4 linked regions of the Homo sapiens genome follow. The protein of the gene in region 2 interacts with the protein of the main gene of each other region in a biochemical or structural test. Each region holds a gene or a part of one and is shown on either strand. Other genes may lie near its edges. The genes, in order: ELN, FBLN2, HSPG2 and FN1.

Region 1 (8,025 bases), on a different chromosome or scaffold from region 2:
TCCCTTCCTTCATTTCCTTCCTTCCCTCCCTCCCTCCCTTCCTTCCTTCCTTCCTTCCTTCCGTCTTTCCTTCCTTCCTTCCTTCTTTCCTTCCTTCCTTCCTTCCTTCCTGTCTCTCTCTTTCTGTCTCTCTTTCCTTTTTTTTTGAACCAAATTCTCACTTACCCAGGCTGGAGTGCAGTGGCATGATCATAGCTCACTGCAGCCTTGAACTACTAGGCTCAAGCAATCCTCTCACCTCAGCCTTGCAGGTGGCTGGGACCACAGGCATGTGCCACCATGCCTAGATAATTTTTAAATACTTTTTGGAAAGATGGGGTCTCAGTATGTTGCTCAGGCTGGTCTCAAACTCCTGGTTTTAGCCTCCCAAATTGTTGGGATTACAGGCGTGAGCCACTGTGCATAGCTAGAATGTGATCTATTCCTAAAGCACAGTCAGAATTCTCACCACTGGGCACCCATTTAGTTGATGCAGCAGACACCTGTGGGCTGGCCCTGGAGGGGATGGAGTGGGAGGAGCCATGTCCCCTCTGCAGGGTCCCCTCCCTCTGCTGAGTTAATCAGGGCAAAACAATAGAGATGGCATCTCAGGTAGAGTGATCAGAAGGGGCAAAGGTAAGGAGGCATGAACAATGCATATTTGGGAAGGAACAAAGGCCAAGTCCATCTGGCTTTGCGGCTAGGGTCTCCGAGGTCTATGCAGGGGCCCGAGCCGTGGACTTGCCACCCCGGGAGGCACTCACCATACTTGGCTGCCTTAGCGGCTGCTGCTGCAGCTGCAGCTGCAGCTGGAGTCCCAACGCCTGAAAACACAGCCACAGAGGGTGAGGTCCTTGCCCTGTGGCCATCTCAAGGACACACCCGCCCCCTGCTGGGACAGATGTTACCTGCGATGCCTCCAATTCCAGGAATTGCCCCAGGCACGCCAGGAACACCAGCCCCTCCAACACCAGGGAGGACTCCGGCTGCTCCAGCACCTGTTGAGATGGGGACAGTGCAATGTAGTTTCCCAAGGACCCTCCTGAGGACAGGCAGGATGGCCACTTAGACGCCGGCGTTTTCACCAGTGTGATCTTATCCAGGAATGGGGCCCGGGTGTCTCCAGATGGGCCTGTCTGGGGAGGCCCCCACCCCACTCCACTGTTCCTTGACTCTCCCCCAAAGTGTCCATTTCAACACACTCATTAAGGGACTTGTATGTTTTCAGACAAATCCCATTCTAATCACTGCCACATACTGAGAAACCACAAGTGGCCGCTCCCTGGGCCAGAGGGTCCCCTGCAGGAATGTTCAAGACTTCCTCTCCCTGTGTTCCGAAGATGCAGCCAAGTTTGTAATCCAAGCGCCTGGCTGCTTGGCTCTGGCAGCCCCTCACAGCCCTGCTCTCCCGCTCCCACATTGCAGCCGTCCCCACCAGCCGCTGGGGCCAAGGAGCCTCGGGTGCTGGGAGGGGGGCCTGCGGGGCCTCCACTGGGAGGCCCAGCTTCAGGCTTCTCCCCACATTCTCGCTCTCTCGGGCTGGTGGGGAGATAAGGAAAGGGCTTCCCTGGGGCTGAGGATGAAGGAGGACTTCAGCCCTAGTGGTCTGACCCTGAGGTGGGCACTACCTGGGGCAGGGGACAGATGCCCACTCCACCCACTGCACGGGCACAGGAATACCACGTTCCATCTGCAGCCATGCTAGCCAAGAACTCACTGACCTGAGCAGTGAGTTAACATTTTTATAGTACACATTAAATTGATACATAACTATTAAATATTTTAAATGCTTATATATGCACCACCTAAAATTATCTTTCTAACCACCGTGGTACCCATTCCCTCTGCTTGGCCTCCTCTTTCCTGTTTTAACCACATGGTAAGCTCCATCTTTATTTTTAAGGCCTAAATCACATGTCACTTTCTCTGGGAAGCCTTTCTAACTTTCCTCAGGTAGAAAAAAATGCCTCCCGTTTCTTGACTCCCACAACAGTGGCTATATTCTCTAAGAGAACTCTTGTTTGTCCCTGATCTCTGATATGGATGGGTGGGAGGAGGCAGTGAGGGAGGGAAGGAAGGAGGCATGGATGAATGCATGGAGGAAAGAATGAATGAATGAATGAATGAATGAATGAATGAATGCATGGGTGAATGGATGGATGGGTGCATGGATGCATGGAGGAATGGATGGATGGATGGATGCATGCATGGAGAAATGGATGGATGGGTGCATGGAGGAATGGATGGAGGGATGCACGGAAGAATGGGCAGATGGATGGATGGATGGATGGAAGAATCAATGGAGGGAGTGATGGATAGATGGATTGATGGATGGATGGATGGATGGATGGATGGACGAGTGGATGGATGGGTAAATGGATGGATGGATGAGTGGATGGATGAATGGATGGATGGATAGATGGATGCATGGAGGAATGGATGCATGGAGGAATGGATGGATGAGTGGATGGATAGAGGGAAGAATGGATGAATGAGTGGATGGATAGAGGGAAGAATGGATGGAAGGAAGAATTGATGGGTAGATGGATGGATGGATGGATAGATGGGTGAGTGGATGGATGGATGGATGGATGGATGGATGGATGGAAGGATGCATGGAGAAATGGATGGATGGGTGGATGGATGCATGGAGGAATAGATGGATGGATGGATGGATGGATGAATGGATGGAAGGATGGATGCATGCATGGAGAAATGGATGGGTGGGTGCATGGAGGAATGGATGGAGGGATGCATGGAAGAATGGGCAGATGGATGGATGGAAGAATCGATGGAGGGAGTGATGGATGGGTGGATTGATGTATGGATTGATGTATGGATGGATGGATGGATGGATTGAGTGGATGGATGGGTAAATGGATGGATGGATGAGTGGATGGATGAATGGATGGATGGATAGATGGATGCATGGAGGAATGGATGCATGGAGGAATGGATGGATGAGTGGACGGATAGAGGGAAGAATGGATGGATGAGTGGATGGATAGAGGGAAGAATGGATGGAGGGAAGAATTGATGGGTGGATGGATGGATGGAAGGATGAATGCATGGAGGAATGGATGGATGGATGAATGGATGCATGGAGGAATAGATGGTGGATGGATGGATGGAAGGATGGATGGAAGGATGGATGCATGCATGGAGAAATGGATGGATGGGTGCCTAGAGGAATGGATGGAGGGATAGATGGATGCATGGAGGAATGGTTGGATGGATGAATGGGTATATGGGGGAATAGATGGATAGATGGTGGATGGATGAATGGAGCGAGGGAGTGATGGATGGATAAATGGATGGATGGATGAGGGGATGGATGGATGGGTGCATAGATGGATGGATGCATGGAGGAATGGATGGATGCGTGGATGGATGGATGGAAGAATGGATGGAGGGAGGGATTGATGGATGGAAGAATGGATGGAGGGAGGGATTGATGGATGGATGAATGGGTGGATAAGTGGATGGATGGATGGATAGATGGCTGCATGGAGGAATGGAGGATGGATGAATGGAGGGAGGTAGTGATGGATGGGTGGATGAATGGATAGATGGATGAGTGGGTGGATGGATAAATGGATGGATGGATGTGTGGACAGATGGATGGATAGATGGATCCATGGAGAAATGGATGGATGGATGGATGGATGGATGGATGGATAGATGGATGGATGAATGGATGGAGGGAGAGATGGATGGATGAATGAGTGGATGGATGAGTGGATGGATGGATGGATGCATGGATGTGTAAATAAGTAGATGAATGGATAGATAAGTGGATGGATGGATAGATGGATGCATGGAGGAATGGATGGATGGATGGATGAATGGATGGAGGGAGAGATGGATGGATGAATGAATGGACGGATGAGTGGATGGATGCATGGATGGGCAGATGAGTACATGAATGGATGGATGGATAGATGGATGCATGGAGGAATGGGAATGGATGGAGGGAGGGATGGAGAAAGTAATAGATTGATGGAAGGATGAATGGATACATGGATGCATGGAAGAATGGTTGGAGGGAGGGATAGATAGATGGGTGATGTTGAAAATTTTGAGTAAATGGGGGTATGTAGGGGCCACTTTGGAGGCAGGCTGTCAATAGTAATGGGAATGGAGAGGCTAGGGGCCTGGAGGCCACCAGGTGGGGACTCCAGGGGCACTCACCGAACTTTGCTGCTGCTTTAGCTGCCGCTGCTGCTGCTGCCTGGGGGCCAACCCCTGGGGGAAGGAAGCAGAGGGGAGAGACCTTGAAACAGTGCTCCTGTATCTCCAGAGCCCACTTGTTCCCAGCCCCAAGAGAGCCAATCCACTGACATGTGGGTATACATGGGAGCTTCAGAGTAGGCAGAGGCTGATGGAGCTGCCCCACTCCTCCCCCAGGATCCTGCTCCAGGTTTGGACCAGGGTCTGGATGCAGGGTGGGCTGCTGCTTTCAGGAGGGAACCTCACCCACCCCAGGGCTCTGGAGCCTGGAAGATCAGTGCTCCCTTGGCTGGAAGTGACGTGAGGCTTTCCTTACCTGTCCCTGTTGGGTAACCAGCCTTGCCCGCTGCACCAGCCACTCCTCCGGGCCCATAGCCTGCAAAACAGAGAGGCTTGATGGTCATCTGTGCAGACATCACCACTGCTGCCCTCCCCCTCCCCCTGCTCTGCCCTCGGGGCCCAAGCTGTCCTGAGTCTGCACCTGTCACCCCCAGCCAGAGTGAAAACAAATACAAACACATGTATGGAGTTGTTATGTCCATTTTACAGATGAGAACACAGAGGCTCAAAGAAGCAACACAGCTCACTTAAGGTCTCATTATTGATAGGTGGGAGGGCAGGGATGGAGACCCATGCTGAGTCCAAATTCCATGCCCTTTCCTTCTGAGATTCCCACTCCAAGACCCCAACCCTGCCCCAGCGAGGTGCTCTCCTGGCCCAGGGCTGGAAGCACAGCACCCTTGCTAGGACCCTGGAGAGGGAAAGAGCTGGAAGCCCACAGTCTAGAAGGGTCTCACTCACCATAGGGCAGTTTCCCTGTGGTGTAGGGCAGTCCATAGCCACCTGGAGAGAGGACAGAGCAAACTCAGGGGCTGCCCCATGCCTTGCTGGGCTCCCACCAACCTGGGTGGACAGATCTACCCCCACAGGTGCTAAAGCTTGAGACCTCCCACATCAGGGTCCTGAGCTGCTCCCAGGAGAGCAAAGGCGCTGGGTGAAGGAGGGAGAGGACACCTCTGCCCCCGAGGCCCATGGAACACCCATCCCCCTACAAATTCAAGCCCCATCATGGCCCTGGAGTCTGAGTATTTTCCTTACACCCCCTCCTCAGTGGAAAGCATCTTATTGTCTAAGCTGATTGCAGAGGTAGGGGCGGGAGCACGAGTGGGTGGATGTTAGAGGGATCTTTCCAATGAACCGTGTTCCTTTCCACCAGCCTAATAGCTTCAGATCGGGACTATGGGTCTCTGTGCATGAGCGTGTGTGTGTGAGTTCAATACCTGCAGATGACTTTCCCATGCTCTCCTTGGCTGGTGACCATACAGGGGCTTCAACACCCCTTCCCTGCCACCAGAGACACCTGTACCCAGGCTGACTTCTGTGCAGGGAGGTGCAGTGAGTGGTACATTTTTTTTTTCTTCTTTTTCTTTTTTTGGAGGAGAGTCTCACTCTGTTACCCAGGCTGGAGTGCAGTAGCGCGATCTCAGTTCACTGCAACCTCTGCCTTCTGGGTTCAAGAGATTCTCCTGCCTCAGCCTCCCCAGTAGCTGGGATTATAGGCCTATGCCACCACACCTGGCTAATTTTTGTATCTTTAGTAGGGACGGGGTTTTGCCATGTTGGCCAGGCTAGTCTTGAACTCCTGACCTCAAGTGATCTGCCCGCCTTAGCCTCCCAAAGTGCTGGGATTACAGGTGTGAACCACCACACCCGGCCGAGTGGTGCATCTTGAACCGTCCCTCTGACTTACCAGGCAGCTTGGGGGCCTTGATGGGATACCCCAGTGGGACTCCAGGTTGCGGTCCCCCAAAGGGTCCAACTCCTGTGGGAATAAAGAGAGCAAGTTCAGGTCCCAGCACCCCCTTCCAAACCCTCCGCCACCCACTCCACTTTCTGCTCAGACAGAAGGAGCTTGCTACAGCATCCAGAAACCATCCTGCTTCGAGGGACTCCCTGAATCTCCATCATGGGTCAGTTGAGAAATTCCCAGTGACAGGCCACTTCCTCCAGGAAGCTACGGGATTCTCTCCCTCCTGGGGCCTGGGCCCCAGTTTGGGCCTGCAGCCCTTGGCACAGGCTGGAGGGTTTTCTGGACTCCTTTGAATTTTGGGCTGCTATGCCAGTGGGGGGAGCAGGCCTGGGATGGGTGCCACTTTGTGCTACAGCCACTGCAAGACCTGGCTCTGCAGGCGTGGGAGAAATTGGGCAGGCTTGGATGGGATCTTGGGTGCCCAACCCCTCCCAACGCCAGAGCCTCTGCCTGGCTGGCCACCCTGCTTCTCCCACCAGCCTTGCCTCACCTGGGATTCCAGCAAAAGCTCCACCTACACCTGTAATGATAAAAAGCTGTCACTACAGCCCTGGAACTGTGGACACTGGGCCAGACAGCACCAAGGGGCCAGGAGGCCCAAGGAATGGCCAGTTCTTCCCAGACCAGTCATCGCATGCTGCGCTCACATGAACTCTGGGGTTTCTTTTTTCGGAGATGGAGTTTCGCTCTTGTCGCCCAGGCTGGGGTGGAATGGGGTGATCTCAACTCACCGCAACCTCTGCCTCCCAGGTTCTGGCGATTCTCCCGCCTCAGCCTCCCAAGTAGCTGGGATTACAGGTGCAGGCCACCACGCCCAGCTAATTTTTGTATTATTAGTAGAGACAGGGCTTCACCGTGTTGGTCAGGCTGACCTCAGGTGATCCGCCCACCTCGGCCTCCCAAAGTGCTGGGATTACAGGCATGAGCCACTGCATCTGGCCCTCTTTTCTTTCTTTCTTATTTTGCGGGGGAACGGGGTCTCTGTTGCCCAGGCTGGAGTGCAGTGGTGTGATCATAGCTCACGACAACCTTGATCTCCTGGGCTCAAGAGATCCTCCTGTCTTAGCCTCCTGAATAGTTGGGATCATAGGTGTGTGTGACCATGTCCGGCTAATTTTTTAATCATGTTTTTGTAGAGATAAGGTCTTGCTATGTTGCCCAGGCTGGTCTTTAACTCCTGGGCTCAAGCGATCCTCCCAGCTCACCCTCCCAAAATACTGGGATTACAGGTGTGAGCCAGTGTGCCCAGCCACACTCTGAGGTTTTTCAGCACCAGGCTGCCCAGGGCTGGAACATAAAAAGTGTCACCCAGAGGGCCCTGAGCCAGTCCAGGATCCCACCCCATTTCACACCCGGGGCCAGAAGGTGGTTGGAGAGTCCCTGCCATCAGCCCTCTGTCCAGACAGCTGCATACCTGGAGCCTTGGGCTTAACTCCTGCTCCAGTGGGAACTCCAGGGAGCACCCCCACACCGGGGAACCGAGCTCCTGCCGGGGGACAAAGCAGTGAGTGTAGGAAGGCAGGCCTTGCAGGCCCTGCTGGGAACCCCTCCCCTCCTCGGGTCCCCCAGCTGACCTCCCTTGGGACTGACTGTCAGTGACAGGCACGGCTCACGGGGTGGGTGGAGAAAGGACCTGTTTAGTGCTGACTTTCCTTCCCTGTCTGGCTCAAGGTCAGAAGATCTGAGTTTTAATCCTATTTCCCAGCCATGTGAGCTGGTGCCTCAGTCAGCCTCATCTCTATGCTGGAGTTAATCACAAAAGCCGTCTCGACCACCCTCCGCAGAAAAGGTAAAGAGAGGGACAGCTGCTGCGCGGTGCCACTCGCCCGTAGACCAGGGAGGCCCATGCTCTCTGGGGCTCTCGCTCACAACCCAGACCCCCAAAGCAGCCATCCAGCTACAGCTGGGACCATGCCAGCGTCTTCCACCTCTCCTGTCTCCCCTGGGGCTGGGCAGCCTTGGCTTTCAGCGTAGTGGGGGAGAGAGGGAGGAAGGGCCACTCCATC
Region 2 (8,025 bases):
GCTCTGCAGCGACACTGGGTGGTTTCTGACCACCTGGCACATATTCAGCCTCTTTCCAAGAACAGCCCCTAGATTTCGTTCTGTGGCCCTATCACCCTGCTGGAGCTCCAATCAGCACTTCCCATTCCCCTTGCAACAGCACCTGACTCAGAGATGGACACCAGGACAATTAGAGACTATAAGACCCACCTCAGGTAAAACACTGGGCAAACAGCTTCTCTCTTTCCTACTGTATTAGACTAAGATGATTTAACATCAAGGGTACCTGAAGCCATCTTGTCATCAAGTGGAGACCATCAGAGGCTGGCACCTGCTCATAAAATACACAAAAGCCAAGAAAGAGAAACAGGGTCATAGTGATAGCTGCCTGGCACCTGGATCCAGCCATGCCTGAAGCTAACTGAAAAACTGAACTTCACAATGACATGAACCCCTTTTGATTAACCTAACTTGGACCAGGTTTTCTGTCCCTTGCAACCAAGAGCCTTAACAGACATATGGGCACATACCTAAAACTGCTATGTGAGGGAGTTTCATAGACTCCCTGCAGTCCACTCACAGACCCCTGGCTGAAGTCCTGTGGCCCAAGGATAAAGAAAAAACTCCTAACGGAGACATTCAAAGCCCTTCACCAACTAACCCCACCTAGCTTTCCTAACCCATCCCCCTCTGTTGTCCTCCACAAACCCAACTCCTGCTAAACTGGAAAACTCTCTCTAGTTCCCAACCCCTTATCTTTCTCTCATCATTAGCTCAACCTGCGATGCCCTCTCTCCTGAAACTCTCCTAGAACCCTGAACACCCAAATCCCACCCCATGCTTTAAAGCCAAGCCCTGAGGGTGGGATAAGTAGGTAGATGGATGAATGGGTAGGTAGGTGGGTGGGTGGGTGGGTGGGTGGGTGGATGGGTGGATGGATGGATGGATGGATGGACGAGTGAATGGATGGGTGGCTAAAAAAGTAGGTAGGTGGGTGGATGGGTGGGTAAGTGAACAGATGGGTGGGTGGGCGGGTGGATGGATGGGTGTGTGGGTATATGGATGGGTGGGTGAGTGGAGAGGGGTAGATTAATTAATCCGTATGGCCCGAGCACAGGGCTGGCAGAGAGGATGGGATGAATTATGAATGTGAGTATCCCAGAAGGGCCTTCAGAAACAGAAAAGGCTTCCCTGAAGTCACCTGGCTAGTCACTGGCTAAGTGACCTAAACAACCAAGGTACGTGTCCACCTTTCATACAGAGGCACTTTCACTCCTGCGTCCGCCTTTTAGTCTCACAAAGGGCTGAGATCCTAGACTTGGGTGGCGGGGTGGGGGGAGTGGTGCCAGCAAAAGACAGGCAGAGAGAGACACAGAGACTGACAGAGACAAGGAAAGAGATCCATTAGTGAGACAGAAAGAGACCAAGACAGAGATGGAGAGAAGCACAGACCGAAAGCCAAGCAGACAGCCAGAGACAGACAGCGATGGAGACAGGCAGGCGGGGCCGGCCTACGGCAGAACCAGGCTCCCTTGGCCACCACAGCATCTGGAAGGAGGCAGCAGCCAGGGGAGCGGGCAGCCCAGTCTCTCTGCGAGTCCCTCAGGCCTTTGCTGTGCCCAATTTATTTGCACGGCCCTGAAATTTAGGAATTTCTCAGGGCTGCCAGTGAGGCGGCCAGTGTACAACCAACAGCGGGGTCTGGCCCAGTCTGTGGTATAACCGTTGGGCTCAAGAGCCTTGGAGGCCCCCAAGGCAGTCAGCCCCTGCTGCCAAAGCCAAGGGAGACAGCCAGCAGGACCAAGCTCTGGACTCCCAGAGATCAGAGCTCAAATTTGAACCTAGCCCTGCCACTAGGCTGCTGGGCACCTCGGAGCATGTGACCCTCTGAGCAGCAATGCTTTCATCTGCACAGTGGGTCTAATCACTGCAGCCTTTCTCCTCTGGGGAACCCCCCTTCACACTTCAGGCTACGTGGACTGCTGGATGGCCAATGAGAGGAGTCCCTGCCCCATCCACAGTGACAGGTCAGAGCAGTCACACGACCCAGTCACATGGCCCATGCTGATGCTCCTGGGAGGAGGCTGCCTTGCTCCAGAGCTTCTGAGCTCGAGGGTGAGCCTGGAGCTGCTGGGGCACCTGACCACCACACGGCAGAGCCTGCCTGGGAGTATGGAACACAGAGAACAGCAGAGCAAGAGATGGAGACCCGGTCCTGATGGCATCTGCAGAGGCCCTGGATACAGCCATGCCTGAAGCTACACCCTGTATTTTTTTAGTTCCATGACTTTTTTGCTGAAATTGTACTTTCTATCACCTGTAACCAAAATTATCCTGACATTTGTGAAAACAAAGAAAGAAGAACCACCTTCTTGTATTCATGGCTGACTTAACCCCAAAATGTCTGAGTTGCTGGGGTTATGTGTCCCTGCAGTAGACTAGACCCCTCCTAGGGCAGCAGGCTGCCTCGCTCAGTCCCCAGGCTCAGGGAATGGCTCCAGACATGCGCCTGGGGCCACATCAACGCATGACCTCCTGACCCTCCCCAGCCACAGCTGACTGGCCCAGGGCAGATGTTCTTCCCAGGCTGGGCTGGTCACAGCTCCTCCCTGAGCTCTTGAAGTGGAAATAAAAGAAAGCACAGACCACCTGCAGAGGAAGAAACAGCAAGTTCTGAAGGTGGGCACATTTCCTGCCATGTGGCGGGCCTCATTTCGAGAGAATCAACCAGGCTCACAGAGAAAGGCAGAGACAAAAGAAAGATGGGGCGTGAGGGAGTCCTGGTGGCTGCAACTTGACCCAGGGCTGACAGATCACTAGTCCTTCCAGGAGGATGTAGTGGGGCCCCTACGTCTCCTGAATAGCCTCAGACACAGACAAGCCTGTGCAAAGGGGCCCCTGCTTCCAGCAATGGGCAGGCCAACTTCCGAAGTCACTGTGGGGGACCAAGCCCAGGTCATAGGTGGGCTACAGTGTCATGTGCTGATGCCCAACCAGACCCTGGGAACCCCAACGTCTAGGGCCAAAGAGGGGTCACTCCTCCCATCCCATGCACAGGAAGCCATGGCCTCCCCACCACACCCTGCCTTGGGGTCACACAGGGACTGGCAGCTGGTGTTACAGTGTTTCCATCCTCAGCAGTTCATTAAACCAGTCTGTTACAGGCTGAACATCTGTGTCCTCCCTACATTTCTATGTGAAAGCCCTGACCCCAGTGGGATGGTATCAGGGGGTGGGGCCCCCCATTAGGAGGTTTAGATGAGGTTACATGGGTGGAGCCCCCATGTGTGGATTAGTGTCCTTACAGAAAGAAAGACCAGAGCTCACTAGCTCTCCCTCCCTCCCTCCCTCTCTTCCCTTCTCTCTCTCTCTCCGTCCGCCGCTTCCCACCCCCCACCTTGTGAGGACACAGCAAGAAGGCAGCCACGTGCATGCCGGGAAGAAAACTCTCACCAGGAACGAAATCTAGGGCTTAGACTTCCAGCCTCCACAACTGAGAAATAAATGTCCATCTTCAATCTCCTCCCCGACTCATCTGTGACATTTGTTATAGCAGCCGGAACCCGCCAGGACAGTCTTAGGGCACGGAGCTGGGGGCACAGAGGACATGGCCACTCCCTGAGAGCCAGACACTTGGTCTCAGAGAAGACATTCCTGCTAGAGGGCTGGGGCCTCCTCCATCAACCCCAGCCTAGCACGAAACATGCCAAGGCAGCCCCAGGAGATGTGAGGTATGTGACGCCCCTACCACAGGGGACTTCCTGGGCAGGGATAGAGATGACTGTTCCAAGGACAGCTGATTTCAGGGACAAGCACCAACGCTCGGTGATCTTGTGAGGAAATGTCCCCGCGAATCCCTCTGAACCAATCTGGCTATTGGAGACCGTCTCTAGACAGCACGGGTGTGCCTCCCACACCTCTCAGACGCTTGCCAACCATTCTTTTTAAAAACCAGGGTGCTGGGCACAGTGGCTCACGCCTGTAATCCCAGCACTTTGAGAGGCCAAGGCGGGTGGATCACAAGGTCAGGAGATCGAGACCATCCTGGCTAACACGGTGAAACTCCGTCTCTACTAAAAATACAAAAAATTAGCCAGGCATGGTGGCGGGCGCCTGTAGTCCCAGCTACTCGGGAGGCTGAGGCAGGAGAATGGTATGAACCTGGGAGGCGGAGCTTGCAGTGAGCCGAGATGGCGCCACTGCACTTCAGCCTGGGCAACATAGCGAGACTCCATCTCAAAAAATAAATAAATGAATAAAAATAAAAATAAATAAAAAAAAAACAGGGAACACTCACTCGGGCTCAAGGCTGTGGCAGGGCATACAAGGTGGCTAAGATGCTAAGCACTGTATTTTTAGTGCCATATTTATTTTTATGGGTATTGCTGGTTTAGGACAAGTGATCCTGATTTCTGTCTACAGTTGTGATCAAAGGTTTCCTTTAAAAGTAAGTATAAGCAGCCAAGCACAGTGGCTCACGCCTGTAATCCCAGCACTTTGGGAGGCCAAGACAGGTGGATCACCTGAGGTCAGGAGTTTGAGACCAGCCTGGCCAACATGGTGAAACCCCATCTCTACTAAAAATACAAAATTAACCCAGTGTGGTGGCACGCACCTGTAGTCCCAGCTACTCGGGAGGCTGAGGCAGGAAAATCACTGGAACCTGGGAGGCAGAGGTTGCAGTGAGCCGGAATCGCACCACTGCACTCCAGCCTGGGTGACAGAGTAAAATTCAGTATTTAAAAAAAAAAAAAAAAAAAAAAGTAAATATAAGCAAAACAGGGAAGGGATTTTTTAAAATAACATTAAGTTATTAAGTATGATGTCAAGGACAGGAGGTAGGAGGATGCAGCCGAAAACACGGTGGTGAAACTCATCCTCACTCTGTCAGAAAGGAAGCTGACACCCTCTGGCTTATTCCCCAAGAAAGTGCACAGGTCCCCGTAGAAGCCCTCTGCCTCTACCAGCCCCATAATCAGACAACAGCCATCAGGGCCCCTGGGATGCCCATGGGCCAAAACGGTGAAATTAATTTGTTTCCACAGCCATGCAGGGGAGCAGAGATGAGGGAGGACATTGAGATGCTCAGCCAACACCAACCACCACGAGGACTAGGGAAGTTGTCTAAGAAAACACAGTGATGAGCGAGATCTTCAGAGACAGACAAGAGACAGAGAGAAAGAGAGAACGTGTGTGTGGGCACGCGCATGCATGCTCATCAATGTTTTTTGACGATGTGTTTTCATTTTGAGGAGACTCTAAGAAGAACAGAACTTTCTGGATCATCTAAAAGCTCAACTTGGGACCAAGGTTGGGGCTGGGAATTCAGGGCCAGGATGGGGGTCCCAGGCTAAGGAGGGAAGAACTCTGGGAGGCTTATCAAGCACTGGGGTACCCCGATCACAAGCCCAAGGGCTGGCCCCAACACAGATGATGGTGTCTCCGTGGCCAGAAGACAGAAGCCACGGGAGACACAGGTGGCTGCACTCAGCCACACTCAAGAACCAGCTACGGCCAGCAGCACTGTCCGCCTCCCCAGAGTGGGCCTGGGGCTCTCCATTCATCCTTCAGCCTTCACACCAACCCTACTGGGGGCCCCTACCACCAGGCCCATTTTCCAGATTGAGAAGCTAAGGATAGGAGACAAATCCCTCATGATGCAGGCTCCGGGGGCTCAGGCCCAGGCAATGCTCAACTCCCACGGTGCTCCCCACGCGCCCAGCTGGGCCTCATCACACTTCAGAGCCCTCCTCCTGTTTCAAGGCTCTTCCTGGGCAACAATGTCAGCATAGCCAGGGGGGCGCCCCCGATTCACAGATGAGCAACCAGAAGCCCGACAAGGTGTGAGACCTGGGACTGGCAGGGTCTGCCTGAGCACATGGGTGCTCCCCTCCACATCCCTGGCCCGGCACAGGTGGGTGGCACCACTTCCTCACCAGCACACAGACCTGGGCGGGACGCACTGGCCGCCTACAATACAGCCCCTCTCAGGAAAGCCAGGCTCCCCACCCTCGAGGAAGGAAATAACCTTTCCCCAAACCAGCACTTGCTTTGCAACAATCTCCATATATGAGGGGAGAGAGAGGCATTTCTGCAACGTTTCCAAATTCCAATAACTGAAGACAATGGCACAAAATGACGCACGGCTTGACCCACGAGGGGCCCTGGGAAAGGACGTGCCCAGCTGAGGCGAGTTTGTGGTGTGGGCGTGCAGTGGTGCCCCGTACACGAGGGCAGCTCGCCAGGCAGGACCTGGAGGTGGACGGAGCTGGCTCCCGTCCCAGCTCTTCCTCCTCAGTCGCTATGTGACTGCAGGCAAGCACGCCCCACTCTGCGCCTCAGTTTCCCGGCCCTGTCACTCTCACAGGTCTCCCACCTGCCGCCTTGTCCTCTCCAGGCCCACTCCTACACCTGGGCTGCAGAGGGACCCTTCAACCTCACAGTCTGGCCGCGCCTCCTCTGCTCGGAACGCCCTGAGGCTGCCTGTTGCTCGCTCGCAGACCAGGACTGGAGGGCCTCCGTTTTCAGGGTCTAGTTGGCCTTGCCAGCCTTACTTCCCACTCTTCCTCCAAGCCCCCACTCTGAAAGAAGCCAGGCTTTCTTCTGTCCCCAGGTGCCCCTCACCCCTGTACCTTCATATCACAGTGCCTGCGCCACCTCCAGGAAGCCCTCCCTGACCACCCAGGCTCAGCTAGATGCCTCCTCAGTTCCCATGGCTTCAGCGTTCTCCTCCAGGATGGCCCCGACAAAGCATTTCAGAGCAACCCATGCAGGCACCCCTGGGGATGACCTTAAAAGGGGCCCTGTGTTCCGCTCCTCTGTACACCAGCCCCTGGCACAGCATTGGCCCACACCAGAGGCTACTGCCAGCACTGTGGGGTGATGAAGAGAATCCAAGGCCCTGGGCACACTCCCTGGCAAAGGGTTTCATAGAGCTGCTAAAGCAGGAACGCCAACTCCAGGGAGCCCCTCCCTGGCCGCCCCCACACAACACCCAGTCACAGCTCCCAGCCCTCCCGAGGTGAAGCCACAAACCCACTGCTCCCACCACCCTATAATGCCTGGCTGGAGGTACAGCCCTGTGGTCCCCTCTGCCCCTGTAGCATACAGGAGCAGCGCCTCTGTCTGGTCTATTGGGAGGGTAGACCTCTGCAGCCCCAGCATTCAGAAGGCGCCCTGGAGGCAGAGCTGCCTGCAGCCACACGGACACCTGCACCACCCACACTCGGGGACCTGGGGAAGGAAACTGGATGACAGAGGGCTGCTAAGGACCAGAAGCCATGCATGGTGTTTACGTCCACCACCGGGCAGGACAGCCGGCCTCACCCTGGCCTCCCCTTTCACTCACTCCACTTCCAATCCATCAAGAAATCCTGGCAGCCCCACCTGCAAAGTCAGTCCAAATCTGACCACTCTCACCTCCAATGCTGCCACTGCCCTAATCCAAGCCCCAACTTCTCTCACCTGGAAGCTGCATGGATCCCCACAGCTGCCCTCCAGCCTGTTCCCTGCCAGCAGCAGTGTGGGGGAAGGGACCTTTAGGATCTCAATTAGACCCCACCCCTCCCCAAACCAGAATCCACCAGCAGCTCCTCATCACACCCAATCACCTGCACCTGCTGTGAGTGAGGATCACTTGAGGCCAAGAGTTCAAGATCAGCCTGAGTAACAAAGTGAGACCTCATCTCTACAAAAAATAGAAAATTAGCTGGCTGGTGTGCGTCTGTAGTCCCAACTACTTGGGAGGCTGAGGCTGGAGGATCACTTGAGCCCAGGAGTTTGAGGCTGCAGTGAGCTGTGATCACACCACTGCACTCCAGCCTGAGAGACAGGACGAGATCCTGTCTTTAAAAAAAAAAAAAAAAAGGAGGGGCCGGGCACGGTGGCTCACACCTGTAATCCCAGCACTTTGGGAGACTGAGGCGGGCGGATCACGAGGTCAAGAGATGGAGGTCAAGTGGCTGTGCAATCTTCACCTTAGGCCCGAATTTGCTGCAGAGAACCCAGTTTCACTTACCATCAGCATGCCCCAAGCATTTACGAAGC
Region 3 (8,025 bases), on a different chromosome or scaffold from region 2:
GCAAAAGGCAGGAAAGGGTGAAGAGCCGTGAAAGTGATAGAGGCTGCTGGGCGTGGTGGCTCACACCTGCAATCCCAGCACTTTGGGAGGCTGAGGCATGTGGATCACCTGAGGTCAGAAGTTTGAGACCAGCCTGGCCAACCTGGTGAAAGCCTGTCTCTACTAAAAATACAAAAATTAGCCAGGCGTGGTAGTGCATGCCTGTAATCCATAATCCCTGCTACCAGGGAGGCTGAGGCAAAAGAATCGCTATTGAATCCGAGAGGCAGAGGTTGCAGTGAGCCGAGATCGCACCACTACACTTCAGGCTGGGAGACAGAGTGAGACTCAGTCTCAAAAAAAAAAAAAAAAAAAAAAAAAAAGAGAGAAAGAAAATGATAGAGTAGAGGCCACTAGGGCTGGGATTTATCAGGCCAGAATTTCAATCCATCCAGCCCAGTAAGGGATCCAAGAAGAGGCATGATCCCAGTTCCCAACTATTTGAAAATTGGAAACGCCAAACAAGGAGAGGGTTGAGTCAGCTGGGGTTAGTTAGGAGGGGGAGGCCAGGACCAGGAGGTGGGGGCCGGAGCCGGCTTCCTGGGAGAGAGCCATGGGCAGGCGCAGGGAGTGGGGAGGTGGTGGCAGGGACCCGGAGGTGGGCTGGGAAGGGGCCAGAGGCAGCTGGGAATCCCAGCCCCACCCGTGGAGAAGCATCTGTGGAGTGACCCGAGGCCACCTCTGAAGTCCTCCCCAGGCTCAGGCCCCAGCCAGGCCTCCCCTTCCCCACCGACTGGGATGGGAGAAAGATGGGGAAAGAGGCCAAATGTTACAAAACACCTAGGTGTGACCCGCCTGATGGGGAGGGGGGACACATCTCTACCCAACAGCCCAAGCCCAAAGCATAGGGTGGGGTGGGGTGAGATCCCCAGGCCTGTGTGTCTCTCTCTCCTGAGTCCTGCTGTTTCTCTGAGGCCACGGGAGCCAGATTTAGAGTCGAGCAGCCCCACATCCCACCAAGTAAGGACCAACTGCAGGTTGGCCCAGAGCTCCCCAGGCAAGGTCCTGCCTCCTCCAGTGTAGGCCAGGGGGGGACAGGGCTAGGATGGGGTCCCAGGACATCCCCCACCCCCCCCACTGTCACTACCCTCAGGATGCACGAACATCCTTTCTGCACCCATGGGAGCCCCTGGCCACACCTCCTGTTGCTCAGAGCCCACCAACTGCACACATCTGGGAAGGGGACAAGGCGTCCAAAGACTCCAGCCTTTCCCAGGCCACACCCTGGGGTGTGCCCCCCTCCTTCTCCCAGTCCAGGAAGGAGCAATCAGGGTGGAAGGATGGACTCTGTCCTACAGCTGCGGCCTCGGTAGGCGAAGGAGGGGCAGTGACAGATCAGAGGCAGTTACACCCGGAGCTCTGAGACTGCGAAAGAGGCCCAGGGAATGGACAATCCCCTTACACAGCCATTCATTCAACAAGCCCAGTACAGGACCTGGGTCATAGAGAAGGCGTGCCCGGCTGTGCCCTGGGAACCCTGCCTCAGATATTCCACCGGCCTTGTCTTTAGCAGGAACGAGACTTAGTGCAATCACGGATTGTCAAATACCTGCCACATTCCAGGCACTGAGCAAGGTGCATCCACCTGGTTACTTCATAACCACCAGGAAGCAGGCCTCCCCATTTCACATTTGACTGAGGCTCAGAGAGGTAAAGCAACTTGCCCAAGGTCACAGAGCCAGTCAGGGCTGGGCCAAGACTTGAAGGCAGGGCCTTTTGAGCCCACATCTTTCCCTTGACCACAGTGCCCAGGGAAGTGGCTCTGAGACCAATGAGGACACAGACAAGTCAAAAAGGGCAGAGTGGACATCCCAGCTTGTCCCACATCTTCTGGGGCCCTGCAGAGAGCATGGCTGGGCAGGCAGCTCCCAAGTGCAGGGGCCAGAGCACGCCCCTTTCCAATCTCAGCAAGGAGCCTGGGCCTTCTTGGCCTGCTGGCTTCCTCAAAGCCATTAATTTGCTCACTTGAATTTGTTTGTTTGTTTGTAGTTTTGAGACAGAGTCTCGCAATGACGCCCAGGCTTGAGTGCAATGGCATGATCTCAGCTCACTGCAACCTCCGCTTCCCAGGTTCAAGCGATTCTCCTACCTCAGCCTCCTGAGTAGCTGAGACTACAGTCATGCACCACCACACCCGGCTAACTTTTTTGTATTTTTAGTAGAGACGGGGTTTCACCATCTTGGCCAGGCTGGTCTCGAACTCCTGACCTCAAGTATCTGCTCACCTCAGCCTCCCAAAGTGCTGGGATTACAGGCGTGAGCCACCGCGCCCATCCTTTATTCACTTGATTTTTTTTTTTTGAGATGGAGTTTTGTTCTTGTTGCTCAGGCTGGAGTGCAATGGCGCGATCTCAGCTCACCACAACCTCCGCCTCCCGGGTTCAAGTGATTCTCCTGCCTCAGCCTCCCTGAGTAGCTGGGATTACAGGCATGTGCCACCATGCTTAGCTGATTTTTTTATTATTATTATTTTCAGTAGAGACGAGGTTTCTCCATGGTGGTCAGGCTGGTCTCGAACTCCCAACCTCAGGTGATCCGCCCGCCTTGGCCTCCCAAAGTGCTGGGATTACAGGTTGTGAGCCACTGTGCCCAGCCTCACTTGAAGTTTTAATGTGTTCACCTACTATCTGCCTAGCACCAGGCAAACAGCAATGAACAAAGCCAAGTCCCTGCCCTCATGCAGCTTCCACTCTAGATGAGGGGGTAAGAATAAATCTACAAGCCATGAGCTCCGGCTGTGGAGTTCTAAGGCAGAGTCTGCAACTCCACAAATGAACACTCAGCAAGATCCCCTCCGCCTACACCATAAGCCAATGCAGAGGCCCCAGCTTGGGTGGGGACGGGGGAGCTCCTGGCTGGAGATGGGTAGGGGGATGACTGCCAGGCATGTGAGCCAGTCCAACCCCCACCCATGCTGTCCCCTCCATCACTTGCCATTCTTTTTTCTTTTTTTTTTTTAAGAGACAGGATCGCGTTCTATCACCCAGGCTGGAGCGCAGTGGCAAGATCATGGTTCACTGCAACCTCCACCTCCTGGGCTCAAGTGATCCTCCTACCTTGGTCTCCCAAAGTGTGGGGATTACAGGTGTGAGCCACCACTCCTGGCCCACCTGCCGGTTTTTTTTTTTTTTTTTTTAGGAATTTTTATTGTCCAAACAAGAGATCGTAAGAGAAGACACAAATAAATTAACTGTTCTGAGAATTCTGGACTCCACCTCCTGCCCACTCCTCCTGGAACTTTCCCATCTCAGGTAGTGGCAGCTCCATCCTTCGGGATGCTGAAGCCAAAGACTGTGGAGGCATCCCGGACTCTTCTCTTTCTGTCCCGCCCCACATCCAACCCACTAGCAAATCCTGGTGACCCATCTTCAAAATGTACTGGGGATTCAACCATCTCCCACCTCCGTGGTCCTAGCTTGAGCTCCCATCGTCTGTCCTGGGTCACGGCCTCCTTGCCTTTGCTCTGGACCCTCCCCGTGCTCCTCTCCACACAGCAGCCAAAGCAATCCTATGGAACACCGGGCCCCTTCAGTGACTTCTCAATTCACTCAGACGCAAATCCAAGGTCCTTCCCATGGCCAAAGCTCTGCTGATCACCCTCTGCCACCCCCCTGCCTGCTGCATCCACCATGCTCCCCCTCACTGATGCTGCTCCAGCCCCACGGGCCTCCTTGCTTTTCCACAGACATGCCAAGGACACTCCCACCTCTGGGCCTCTGCACTAGCTGTGCCCTCTGCCTGGAATGCCCTTTCCATTGATATCTGCGAGGCTCACCCGCTCACTTACTTCAGGTCTCCTTCAGTTCAAATTTATCTTATCAGAGGCTTTTCCTACCACCCCACCCTACCTACCCCGCCTCATCACTCACTGCCCTCTTCCCTGTTTTATTTTTTCTTCTGAGCACTTATCACCACCTGATGTATTTCATTTATTGTCTGTCTTCCTGCACTAGCTATAACGCAAGTGACATGAGAGGAAGGAATCTGACATTTTTATTCTCTGCGGTAACCTCAAGATCTAGAACAGGGCGGGTGCAGTGGCTCACGCCTGTAATCCCAGTGCTTTGGGAGGCCAAGATGGGTGGATCACTTGAGGTCAGGAGTTCAAGACCAACCTGGCCAACATGGTGGAACTCCATCTCTACTAAAAATACAAAAATTAGCTGGACGTGGTGGCGTGTTCCTGTAATCCCAGCTACTTGGGAGGCTAAGGCAGGAGAATCTCTTGAACCTGGGGGGCAGAGATTGCAGTGCGGCGAGATCATACCACTGCACTCTAGCCTGGGTAACAGATCAAGACTCCATCTCAAAAAAAAAAAAAAGATCTAGAACACAGTCAGATACATAGAAGATGCTCCACAGATATTTGTGAAATGAATTTTAAAAAACGCTTAATCACATACATCATTTGTTCATTCATTCATTCAACACACTCTGCAAGGCTTTGCGCACCAGATACTCCCCTAAAACCCAGAGCAACAGGACACCCTCCTTCATGGCTCAGGGAATGGGCCCTGGTCAGGAGCTAGGAGCTGGTCCTAAGGCTATCTCAGGATGCCACAGATGCCTCCAGGGATGCTCTGAGGTTCCTGCAGGCCTGGCACAGATGAGCATCATGGAAGGGAAGGGAGAGTGGTTCTGGGGGCAGCAAGACTCAAAGGCCTCACATTCCCAGGCCTCAAAGAGCCACCTTGTTCTCAGGGCTTTCATGACAGCACCCCCGACCCGGCCACCCCAGCAGCCACGAGCCACACCCCTCTCAAGGCTGCTATTGACACAGCCCTGACGCCACCAGGCTGGGCAGTGAGGCCGGCGGCTCCCCGCGAAGTGAGTTCCACACATACTTCTGGGTTTCAGTCAGCCAGCTCTGGGTGCTGGGGCAGCTGGCCCCGGGAGCAGGAGGGGGTGGCAGGGCCAAAGAGGCCAAGGCCCAGGCGGAAGCAACATTCCAGCAGGGCCGGGACCCTCGGCGCAGCCTCCCTCTTCTTGGCAGGAGCAGGAGCGAGAGGAGAAAAAGGCCAGGGTAGGCCCTGGGACAGGGAGAGGTAGGCCCAGCAGATACTTGGGAAGCTGCCGGGGAACCAAGTCATATTCACTTCCTCCTCCAGTCTGACCCCTCATAGCTGGGACTGGATTGGGTGAAGGGGAGGGGGGCAACAGGCCAGGGCTGGGAACCCTTCCCATATACCCCAAGTAGTCTGAGGGTGCAGAGCCCACACCTCTGGCCTCCAAGTGGCCTCTGAATCATTGCTCCAGATCTTTCCATAGCCTGGGCAGGCCCTCCTGCCCTCCCTCCTGAGCCTCTCACCCCAAGGCCAGGCAGCCCTTGAAGCTCTGCAGACTCACCCTAAACCTTGAGCCCCCAGGGAACAGCCAGAAAAAAACAGCGCAGGCTCCACACAGGACAACCAGGAGGGTGTTCTTCCCCTTCCCCCACTAGCAGCATGGCAGGGGCAGGGGCCCCTGACCTCCCACACTGGGCAGGGCCAGCCTGGCCCACTCAGGCCTAAAAGTCCCTGGATAAATTCAACTGCCTGTAGAGTCCCAGGAAATATCTGATGAGAACATTAATGAATTAACAAACCTAAAAATGACCACCCTAGAGTTCCTAGGCTTCCCCTCCAGGCACAGGCGTCCCTAGGAGACCCCACGGACACTGAGGCATACCCAACCTAAGAGCTTCTGTCCCCGAGCCAATCCCTGATATTCCTTGCCTGAGGTAGCCCCTGTACTACTTGGGACCAGAGTTCTTAATCAACATCTGTGACAAGTTGTAGCAATATCTACTGACTGCCCACGACAAGCACATGGGGCAGTACGTGGCGTGATTAGGAGAGCTTCGTCTGGATTCAAAACTTGGCTTGCAGCATCTCTGAGTGTGTGGATATGTAAGTCACTGGGCAAGTTACGTAACCTCTCAGTGCCTCAATGTCCTCTGCTTAGAGAATGGGGATCAGGCTAGTAGCTACAGCTTAAAACATTCGACAAAGATATTCACTAAGCACTTACTACCTGCCAGGTGCTAAGCATACAGCAGTGAACAAAAACAAATGAGGTCCTGCTCTCGTAGAACTTAAACTGAGCAGGAGGAAGCAGATAAACACATAAACAAATACAGACAAATACAGGCCAGACAATTGTGAGAACAAAAATAAAGCAGTTTAAGGAGACAGCCATTATGGGAAGAGTGGTAAGGACCAGAAAGAGGGAGAGGGTCATATGGATATTACGGGGACAAATGTCCCAGGCAGAAGGAACAGCAGACGCAGAGACCCTAAGGTGGGAGTGTGTTTCACATGCTCAAGAAACAAAGCCTTGGTCAGGCGAGGTGGCCCATGCCTATAATCCTAGCACTTCAGAAGGCTGAGGTGGGAGGATAGCTTGAGTTAAAGAGTTTGGGACCAGCCTGGGCAATACAACAAGATCCCATCTCTATTTGTTTTAAATTTTTATATTCATTAGAAAAGAAAAGGCTGGGTGCAGTGGCTCACGCCTATAATCCTAGCACTTTGGGAGGCCGAAGGGGGTGGATCATTTGAGCCCAGGAGTTCGAGACCTGCCTGGGGGAACATGGCAAAACCCTGTCTCTATAAAAAATACAAAAATTAGCCAGGTGTAGAGGAGGGTGTCTGTAGTCCCAGCTACTCAGGGGGCTGAGGTGGGAGGATCACCTGAGCGTGGGAGGTTGAGGCAGCGGTGAGCTGTGATTGTGCCACTGCACTCCAGCCTGGGTGACAGTGTGAGACCCTGTCTCAAAAAAAAAAAAAAGAAAAGAAAAAGAAACAAAGACTGGTATAGCTGGAGGAGTTTGAGAGGAGCAGGTGGCAGGAGGCCGGGTGTTGCAGGGCCTCGTAGGCTATATTAAGTCAGGGGCTGGGACCTAATTCTGAGCACCGCAGGGAGGTGGTGAGCAGGAAACACAGGTGAATGGGAGGATTCACTGAGAAACTCAGAGCAGACAGTGGGTACTGGGTAAGTCTGAAGTACCCGTATTACTGTGTCATCATCCAGCCTGGCACCCCAAGAGCTCCTTCCCCTCCACTTTGCTCACCCGTCTTCCGGGCCCTGAACCCAGTCACCTCCTGCCACCTTCTTTCCACCGTCTCCCGGGCAGGGCTTCAGACCCACAGATCCTAACTTGTCTGCGCTCAGCCTGAGAGCAGGCCCGGGCCAAGCCAGGCAGGGGCCACAACTCCCCAGACAGGGGGAAATGGGCCTAAGGGATGGGGGGGTGGTCCATCTCTGCCCCTTCCAGCTTCTACCCTGCAGACAGACCTGCAGCCTGCCCTCCTTCCCTCCGGGAATGTCCAGGGCACACTCAAAACCCCATCCTGTGCCGGCTGCAGGTACGGAACAAGTAGGCTAGTGTCAGGTGACAGAGCAGCTGGCTGCGTGGAGGAGGGCTGAGGGACCGCCAGGAAGGGGAGGCTCCTGCAGTTCAGCTGGCAGCCTCCCCAGTGAGGAAATCCAGCTGAGGCAGGAAACAGGTATCTCAGCGACTTCCCTCCTAGGCCCTGGAAAACACCTTAATCACCACCGAGGCTCCCTCAAGACGCCTGTCCCCTGCAGGGCCGCCCTAAAGGGGTCAGCAGGCCAAGGCCTGCCGAGTCACCCAGGCCCAGCCCCCTCCTCCAGCAAGCCTCCTCACCTCCCAACAGCTGAAATTACACCCACACTTAATCACAGATCAGCTTCCTGTGGTCCTGTCCCCCGTCCCGGGGAAGCCTGGAGCTCCCTAAGGCCCATCTCACCCTGCTGCTGTGCCCAACCCTTCCCCATAAGCCACTGGCTCCGGACCAAACTGAAGGGCAGATGAGAGCAAGGGTAGCAGGCAAAGAGGGTCCAAGGTGTGCTGGGAGCCTGGGCTAGGAATTGATCTCATTTTTGACTTGCAACAAACTCCTCAACCCCATTGTACAGATTTGGAAACTAAGGCTCAGAGAGAGGAACTCGCCCCAGATCACACAGCCAGAAACCGCAGCCCAG
Region 4 (8,025 bases), on a different chromosome or scaffold from region 2:
AAATGCTCAACTGCTTAATTCACAGGAATTTATACATGTAAAGTAGCACAGTCTTCTATCAGATGAGGGAAGGGGCTAAAATTAAACAACTGGCCTTAGGAATAAAATCTGTCACTTGGCATAGACAGGACTTAGCACTCTCTGTTGGTGTGGAGTAGAGAACTCTCCTGTTGGAAGATTGGGGATTCACGGTTTTGATTATCCCCTATCTCATGTGCCTTGGTGAATTTTCAGCTGCTGCAAATTGAGCAGCCAGGTGGCACGCTATTGATTTAAAAGGATTTCCCAGGTGCTACAAAGAAGAGTTAATGATCTTTTAACCTCTATAGAAGCTTTTAACCTGTATAGTCAGAAAAAAAAATGGAAATAACATTGGAAAAAAATGGAAATAACATTGGAATAACATTCTCTGCAGACAGAAATGCACAATGTTGGTAGCATTTTATATCAGGAGCAAAAGCCAACTGTCCCCATGTCTGCAGAAGGGGTATTTTCTTTATAGGTAATCGTTTCAGTATTTAATCACTCAAGAGGACAGCAGCATGGTGAGATGGAGAGGGTCTGGGAAAAGACATCAGGAAACCTGTGCCCTATATCAACTCAGATACTCAGAAGTAAGGACTCAGAGTGTTGTACTAAATAATATTTGAAATCCCTTCCAGATCTATAATCATATCACCATTTGAGAGTCTGTCAATTACGTATGCATTTTGTGAAGACAACAGGATATGGCAGGAGGTGGGGGAGAGATTAATTTAATATAAAGTTGCTCATTTATTTCATGTTGATGTGTTGCATTAAATCCCAAAGATAAAAAGACAATGGCAACAAAGGTACAGTCAACAGAAAAGCCCATCTCTGGTGTACAGCAGAGGGGAGCCTGTGTCTAAATAGTACGTGTTTACATACCAGAGTTGCCCACGGTAACAACCTCTTCCCGAACCTTATGCCTCTGCTGGTCTTTCAGTGCCTCCACTATGACGTTGTAGGTGGCACCTCTGGTGAGGCCTGTCAGAGTGGCACTGGTAGAAGTTCCAGGAACCCTGAACTGCAATTATCGGTACATCCAAAGCAGAGAGAAAGCATTATAGTGAGGAATGACACGGGCTCTCCTCTTACCAATAACCCTCACTGTTTAAACAAAGCAAAGGAAGACAAAAAACAAAAAACAAAAAAAAAAAAAAGAGGGAGGGTATAGTGGTCCTAACCAGCTGAGGAGAGAAATGGAACAAGGATAGGGGCCATCGTTCCTGCCAGATTTTCCTGCCAACAATCTACCTACGTGCTCCGTAGTTAACAGGAGCCCTCGACAATACTAGAGACGGCCTGCCATTGATCTTGCTTCAGTCGCAGGTCTGCATAAGCCCTCTGGAAGCCCTGGCCATGTTTGCTTCACATAAAACCTGGACACTGCGCTATATGGGAGACACGGTCATGCTCCTCCAGGTGACATCTGACCCCAGTGTGGAGTCCTTAAAACAGTTGGGCAAATCCTCAAACTCATGTTTCTAAGCTCATAAATTTCCTACAGTGTTGTCAGTTTTTAAATTCTGCCACTTTCTAAAAGTAACAACACAATAAAAATTGATACTGTCAGTGGGCCGGGTGTAGTGGGTGGCTCATGCTTGTAGTCCCAGCACTTTGGGAGGCCAAGGCGGGCGGATCACGAGGTCAGGAGATCGAGACCATCCTGGCCAACATCGTGAAACCCCGTCTCTACTAAAAATACAAAAATTAGCTGGGTGCGGTGGCACATGCCTGTAATCCCAGCTATTTGGGAGGCTGAGGCAGGAGAATTGCTTGAACCTGGGAGGCAGAGGTTGCAGTGAGCCGAGATCACGCCACTGCACTCCAGCCAGGGCCATAGAGCAAGACTCCATCTCGGGGAAAAAAAAAAATGGATACTGTCAACACAAATTAAATAATATACGTTTTAGAGAATCAATCACTTATCAGCTGCTATGCACAGCTTCGCCTGTTTTTTTTTTTCTTTAGATATGTTGTAGATAGTGGGGTTCTTCAAGGACAAATCGTAAAGGTAGTGTTTTAGACTTCTGCACACAAATGGAAATTCAGGTAGAATATCTTTCTTTTCTAGAATCATCTATCTTACTCAAAAAGGAACCTCAAATGTGTGAGAATAAGAGAAATAGTTTCATTTTCTCTATGAAATAAAAGCTAGTGACTCTCTGGTATGTCCTCCAAAGTAGAGCCATATTGGGATTTAAAAAAAAAAAAAAGCAGGGCTTAAATGTGCCATCTTCTAAGAGGTTCTAAAAGTGGAGCCACTTTTTTTTTTTTTTTTTTTTCAAGAGACGAGGTTTCACCATGTTGGCCAGGCTGGTCTTGAACTCCTAACCTCAAATGATCCACCTGCCTCGGCCTCCCAAAGTGCTGGGATTACAGGCGTGAGCCATCACACCCGGCCATGAAGCCACTTTTTATTCGAGGGCTGGTCACTTCAGTTACCTAACTTATTCCTTTCTGTGCTGCCCCATGAGAAGTGAAGAGAACAATTAATTACCTGTAAGGGTTCTTCATCAGTGCCAACAGGATGACATGAAATGATGTACTCAGAAGTGTCCTGGAATGGGGCCCATGAGATGGTTGTCTGAGAGAGAGCTTCTTGTCCTGTAGAGGCATTTGGATTGAGTCCCGGACCGTGTGGGTACAGGTGATAGTCTACATCTTCCCTGGGGATGTGACCAATTTGGATTTCCTCACCTACATTCGGCGGGTATGGTCTTGGCCTATGCCTTATGGGGGTGGCCGTTGTGGGCGGTGTGGTCCGCCTAAAACCATGTTCCTCAAAGATCATTTGTTGCCCAACACTGGGTTGCTGACCAGAAGTGCCAGGAAGCTGAATACCATTTCCAGTGTCATACCCAGGGTGGGTGACGAAAGGGGTCTTTTGAACTGTGGAAGGAACATCCAAGATCTCTGGTCCATGAAGATTGGGGTGTGGAAGGGTTACCAGTTGGGGAAGCTCGTCTAGCCGAGAGAGGTTAGAGCCAAAAAAGCAAAGCGCATTAAGCTCCAGGAAGTAGCAGCAATGATAATAATCGATTCAGGCAACAATGACTGTTCATCAATTTGATAAAAGCCACCAGAAAATGAGCAGTTCTGAGATCACAAAACACTTTTTCCAGAAAGAAATCTTTAGGATTTTTCTCAAAGGTTTCTTTATAGTTTAGAAAGAAAAAAGTGTTAGTATGAATTTATCATACACACAGCTTTAAACCGCTGAGCCCCGTAGAAGCTGCCTCTGCTCAAATTAGACCTAATGGAACTGAAATGTGCAGTCTTTCTCTTTCTCTCTTTCTTTTTTAAATTTGAGAAGCAAGTTGTAGGAAGTAGAATCCAGACTAATCATATCAGTGTCATAAGTATGAGAATTACAGAGGTTTGGCTCAACAGTTTTTCATGGTTTGAAATGGTAAAAATAGATAAAACACACATGTTCATTTTTGAAATTTTCCTATATCAGGAATACACATTTTCTTGAAATTAACTGAAACTGGATGCAAAAGTAAGACATTATTTAGCTCTAAGTTGTAGAAACCAAATAAAGATAAATGTGAGAGGTTTCTCTCCCTCCTTTAAAAAAGGAAACATTTTAAAATTCAACAGAAGGTATAAAAGAAGAGCAATGATAGCTCTTCTTTTACATTTTAACATCTTGTTTGAATTTTTAAAAGGTGAATAACAAGGCTTTATATTGAGTGGCTGTAGTAAAGAAAAAAAATAAAACCAAACTCTGCAGTGCATGTTAAATTATTTCTCCTATTAAAGAATACAATATATACACTATGCTGTTAGATAAAAAAAATCACAAGAAATGCATCAAAACATGGAGAACCTTTTCATATTGCAAGATTGCTCATTTGTTATTAGTTTTGTCCTATCTTTCTCCTTGTTACCTGCAAGATACTCTTACCTGTCTTTTTCCTTCCAATCAGGGGCTCGCTCTTCTGATTATTCTTCAGGGCAATGACATAAATTGTATATTCGGTTCCCGGTTCCAGGCCTGAAGGGAGAATAGAACCATCACATTATGTCAATGGGCTCAGCTAGTCAAGTGGAAGTCGGTCTCACCAGCAGACGCTACTGGGAGCAGGCACTTCCTCTCCAGCTGGCTGTTGGCCTCTTGAAGGTAAAATCGACTTCACTTTTCCTCCATAAACACCCAAATATCCTGCATATAAAGTCCGCATCGCAAACTAATTATCTTACTATCATATCTGACGCCTGAATAGACATTTTTTGGCTAACTTTTCCAGGGTATTCTTTTTTTTTTTTTTTTTTTTTTTTTTGAGATGGAGTCTGGCTCTGTCACCCAGGCTGGAGTGCAGTGGTGCTATCTCGGCTCACTGCAAGCTCCGCTTCCCAGGTTCAGCCATTCTCCTGCCTCAGCCACCCGAGTAGCTGGGACTACAGGCACCCATCACCACGCCTGGCTAATTTTGTTTTTGTATTTTTAGTAGAGATGGGGTTTCACCGTGTTAGCCAGGATGGTCTCGATCTCCTGACCTTGTGATCTGCCTGCCTCGGCCTCCCAAAGTGCTGGGATTACAGGCGTGAGCCACCGCGCCTGGCCTTTCCAGGGTATTCTTTTAACGTGGTCTTATTTGCCTTTTTGAATTTAAGAAAATCTATCAGCATCATATACCACCACTGGAATATAAATTTGAAAGAGAGTCCTGCAGATTATATACATGAATCTACTTAGGCCTAATAACCAAGCAGTCCTCAGTGGCAGATCAATGAAAAGTGAAACTAAAGGCAAGTGAAGGGTAGGAGAGATTGGCCAGTGTTTGTGCAGCCTCTGTGGGAAGTGTCTAGTTCAATTCCTCTCATGTCTGCTTCTATTTTCCTGTTCCCCCCAATTCTAAAAAGCCAGTGTCTCCTTCTAATGTCTGTATGTTCTGTGGGAATTTTAAAGTCCAGGTGATACTCTATACAGACTGATATGGTTTGGCTCTGTGTCTGCATCCAAATCTCATCTGGAATTGTAATCCCCATGTATTGAGGAGAGGAGGTGATTGGATCATGGGGTGGTTCCCCCAGGCTGTTCTCATGATAGTGAGTTCTCACAAGATCTGATAGTTTTGTAAGTATCTGGAAGTTCCTCCTGTGTGCTTCTCTCTCCTGCTGCCATGTAAGACATGCCTGCTTTTCCTTCCACCATGATTGTACATTTTCTGAGGCCTCCCCAGCCATGCGGAACTGTGAGTCAATTAAACCTCTTTATAGCAGTATGAAAACAGACTAATACAGATAGTTTAAATATTTCATCTCTTGGGCAAAAATAATACTAGAGGCTTATAGTCTTTCCCACCAAGGTAGACAACTCTTATTCCCCATTCCAGGCATTCTTCCAATGTGGGTGGTTGGGACTGCTCTGCCTCAAGACCTATCCTGTGATAGTGGTCAACAAGGTCAATGGCAGGTGGTGCACTGGCAAGTCCTGCAAGATTGCCATATCTATAGAGAGCTGAGTGTAATGACAGAATCACAATCAGCTAGTATGCTTTGAAAAATATCTTTCTCCAGGACTGAATTGACAGGTATCTGGCAAACTTGCAGCGAAAGGAAAACATGAGTCTAGTCATGCCATTAGTACAGTCTTGAAATTGCATTTTCCTTCACTCATGCCTTTTGGGATGTATTAGGCTCTACCACTCCTACACAGAGAATGCTTTTTGAGGTTATCAGGAACAGAGTTTCGCATTCTCATGACACAGTATCAAAGACGCTGTGGGAGTTTGCTAAGGACTTCATGTGTCCTAGGTAGTAAGAAGGAAAATGACAGCATGGAAGCAGCAATACCAGTAATAGTAGCCTCTGTGACACCAGGGCGGGGCCGAGGGACCACTTCTCTGGGAGGAGACCCAGGCTTCTCATACTTGATGATGTAGCCGGTAATCCTGGCACGTGGCGGCTGCCATGATACCAGCAAGGAATTGGGTGTGGTGGCCAGGAAACGCAGGTTGGATGGTGCATCAATGGCTGAAAGAAAACAAAATTAAGTCTCTAAGAAGGCAAATAACCAAGAAAATTACTCCCACACTTTTCTCCCGAGCCGTTCTAAACACACTTAAAAGAATCTGAGAATACTGTAAACCGGAAACAAGATTCTCTGGAATCTATAATACAAAAATATACGCCTCACATTTGTTTTTTGAGTTCATGAAACTGATTGCATACAAGTCAATGGCATTTCCTCAGTAGAAGGTATAGTTACCAGTGGAGGCGTCGATGACCACAGGGGAGCTCCGAGCATTGTCATTCAAGGTGTACAGGTAGATCTTGTAGTCAGTGCCTGGTTGTAAACCTGGGATTTGAGAAGAGATGATTTTTAACAGTTCTTGCTTTTTACTAGGAGAATTCTCAAGCTAGCCTGCAATTTTTCTGGGTTCTTCTATCATCCCATATTTATATAGACTACCAAAGTGGTCCACATTTGAACAGTAAAGTAGAGCATGCTATGGATGTTAACTGTTAACAAGAAACATATCTCGAAAGTGAATCACTGATACAGACAAGGACACTGGTAAAGTAAATTCTGGAATGCAAAAATGCTATGTTGGAAGAGGCCCTCTTGCAGAATGGGGGTCAGCCACTTATTGAGGTTTTCTCTTTACCGTAATCAGATGGTCAATAGTTGAGCCTTGGAATCACAATTTTAAAAAGCTAAAAAAGACCTCAGATATTGAATATTCTTCGGTTACAATTTTGGCCTTTATTAAGTGGTATTGTTTACTTTTATATTAACTATGCTTTTTAATGCTAAGATCTATACATCACTGTTTTTTATTTCTTTTAGTTTTAAACCTTATGTTACAATTTTTTAAATAAGAAAGGGCACAATGATGGAAGATCAAACTTGTTGATTGACACTTACGCAATTTCCATGACAAATATTACACAAAATCAGGCATTCAAAGGACAAAACTATTTCTGATCATAGCATGAAAATAACGTTCTAAAACTGGGTTATGATGATAACACTGAAAATAAATTTTATCAGTGTCAGTCGTAGAACAGTTAATAAGCCCGTTTACATTGTGGGTATTTGTTAACAAATGTGGTTAGTGCAATGAGTTCCCTGACCTGTGATGGTGTAGCTTCTGACATCTGGCTTGATGGTTCTCTGGATTGGAGTCTGGCCATTGGCTGGAACGGCATCAACTTGGAAGCCAGTGATCGTCTCAGTCTTGGTTCTCCAGCTAATGGTGATGGTGGTCTCAGTAGCATCTGTCACACGAGCCCTTCTTGGTGGGCTGACATCTGCACAGGAGCATAGCTAGAGATTAGTGCCTGCTTGGCTCATCCATGTAAAGTTTTGGTATTTTAAAACGTTTCCTTGGTATATATCAAATTCATCCATTTCAAGAAATATATAACTAGTAATGTGTAGATTATCTCCTTTGGCATTCAGAGAGAAAGGTCAACTGTAATTAGAAAATAGGAAAATATCTACCTCTCAGACATTTTATTTTGAAGAGCTGAAAAGCTTTATAGATACTACCAGTGGTTCCCAGGGCTGGCTTTATAGTATCTACAAATACTTCAATAAATATTAAAATTATTAATGTATTATAATGTAAAAATATGTGTGGTAGGAGTTACAATAACATGGCCAGCTAACAATTTTGTGTGTGTGTGTGTGTATGTGTGTGTGAGAGAGAGAGAGAGTGTGTGTGTGTGTGTGTGTGTGTGTGTGTCTAATATTACGGCAAGTATTTTGTATTTTCTCTCAACAGGTACAATGCCATCCCTCTTTTATAAATGATAAAACTTTGACACTTTACCTGACTTTTGAAAAGGCATACATCAAGGTATTGATATAACAGAAGACTAGAATCTAAGCCTGATTTGGTCCAATGGTTACTGTGCTGTGATATAATTTGGATATTTGTCCCTGTCCAAATCTCTGTTGAGTTGTAATCTCCAATGCTGGAGGTGGGGCCTGGTGAGAGGTGTTTGGATCATGGGGGCAGATCCCTTGTGGCTTGGTGCCCT

The links.
Region 1: the proteins of FBLN2 (region 2) and ELN form a complex in vitro, tested with the Homo sapiens proteins (one study listed by BioGRID).
Region 3: the proteins of FBLN2 (region 2) and HSPG2 form a complex in vitro, tested with the Homo sapiens proteins (2 studies listed by BioGRID).
Region 4: the proteins of FBLN2 (region 2) and FN1 form a complex in vitro, tested with the Homo sapiens proteins (one study listed by BioGRID).

Annotation. Positions count from the first base shown.
Region 1 is NC_000007.14:74,044,702-74,052,726, reverse strand, and holds part of ELN (elastin isoform a precursor), read right to left. Parts: intron 7,506-8,025; coding exon 7,434-7,505; intron 6,540-7,433; coding exon 6,510-6,539; intron 6,032-6,509; coding exon 5,960-6,031; intron 5,053-5,959; coding exon 5,011-5,052; intron 4,586-5,010; coding exon 4,526-4,585; intron 4,225-4,525; coding exon 4,171-4,224; intron 978-4,170; coding exon 888-977; intron 804-887; coding exon 744-803; intron 1-743. UniProt on the Homo sapiens protein: Major structural protein of tissues such as aorta and nuchal ligament, which must expand rapidly and recover completely.
Region 2 is NC_000003.12:13,551,665-13,559,689, reverse strand, and holds part of FBLN2 (fibulin-2 isoform a precursor), read right to left. Parts: intron 1-8,025. UniProt on the Homo sapiens protein: Its binding to fibronectin and some other ligands is calcium dependent. May act as an adapter that mediates the interaction between FBN1 and ELN.
Region 3 is NC_000001.11:21,926,427-21,934,451, forward strand, and holds part of HSPG2 (basement membrane-specific heparan sulfate proteoglycan core protein isoform b precursor), read right to left. Parts: intron 1-8,025. UniProt on the Homo sapiens protein: Integral component of basement membranes. Component of the glomerular basement membrane (GBM), responsible for the fixed negative electrostatic membrane charge, and which provides a barrier which is both size- and charge-selective.
Region 4 is NC_000002.12:215,369,385-215,377,409, forward strand, and holds part of FN1 (fibronectin isoform 1 precursor), read right to left. Parts: intron 7,291-8,025; coding exon 7,114-7,290; intron 6,335-7,113; coding exon 6,245-6,334; intron 6,010-6,244; coding exon 5,830-6,009; intron 4,028-5,829; coding exon 3,938-4,027; intron 2,992-3,937; coding exon 2,525-2,991; intron 1,049-2,524; coding exon 910-1,048; intron 1-909. UniProt on the Homo sapiens protein: Fibronectins bind cell surfaces and various compounds including collagen, fibrin, heparin, DNA, and actin. Fibronectins are involved in cell adhesion, cell motility, opsonization, wound healing, and maintenance of cell shape.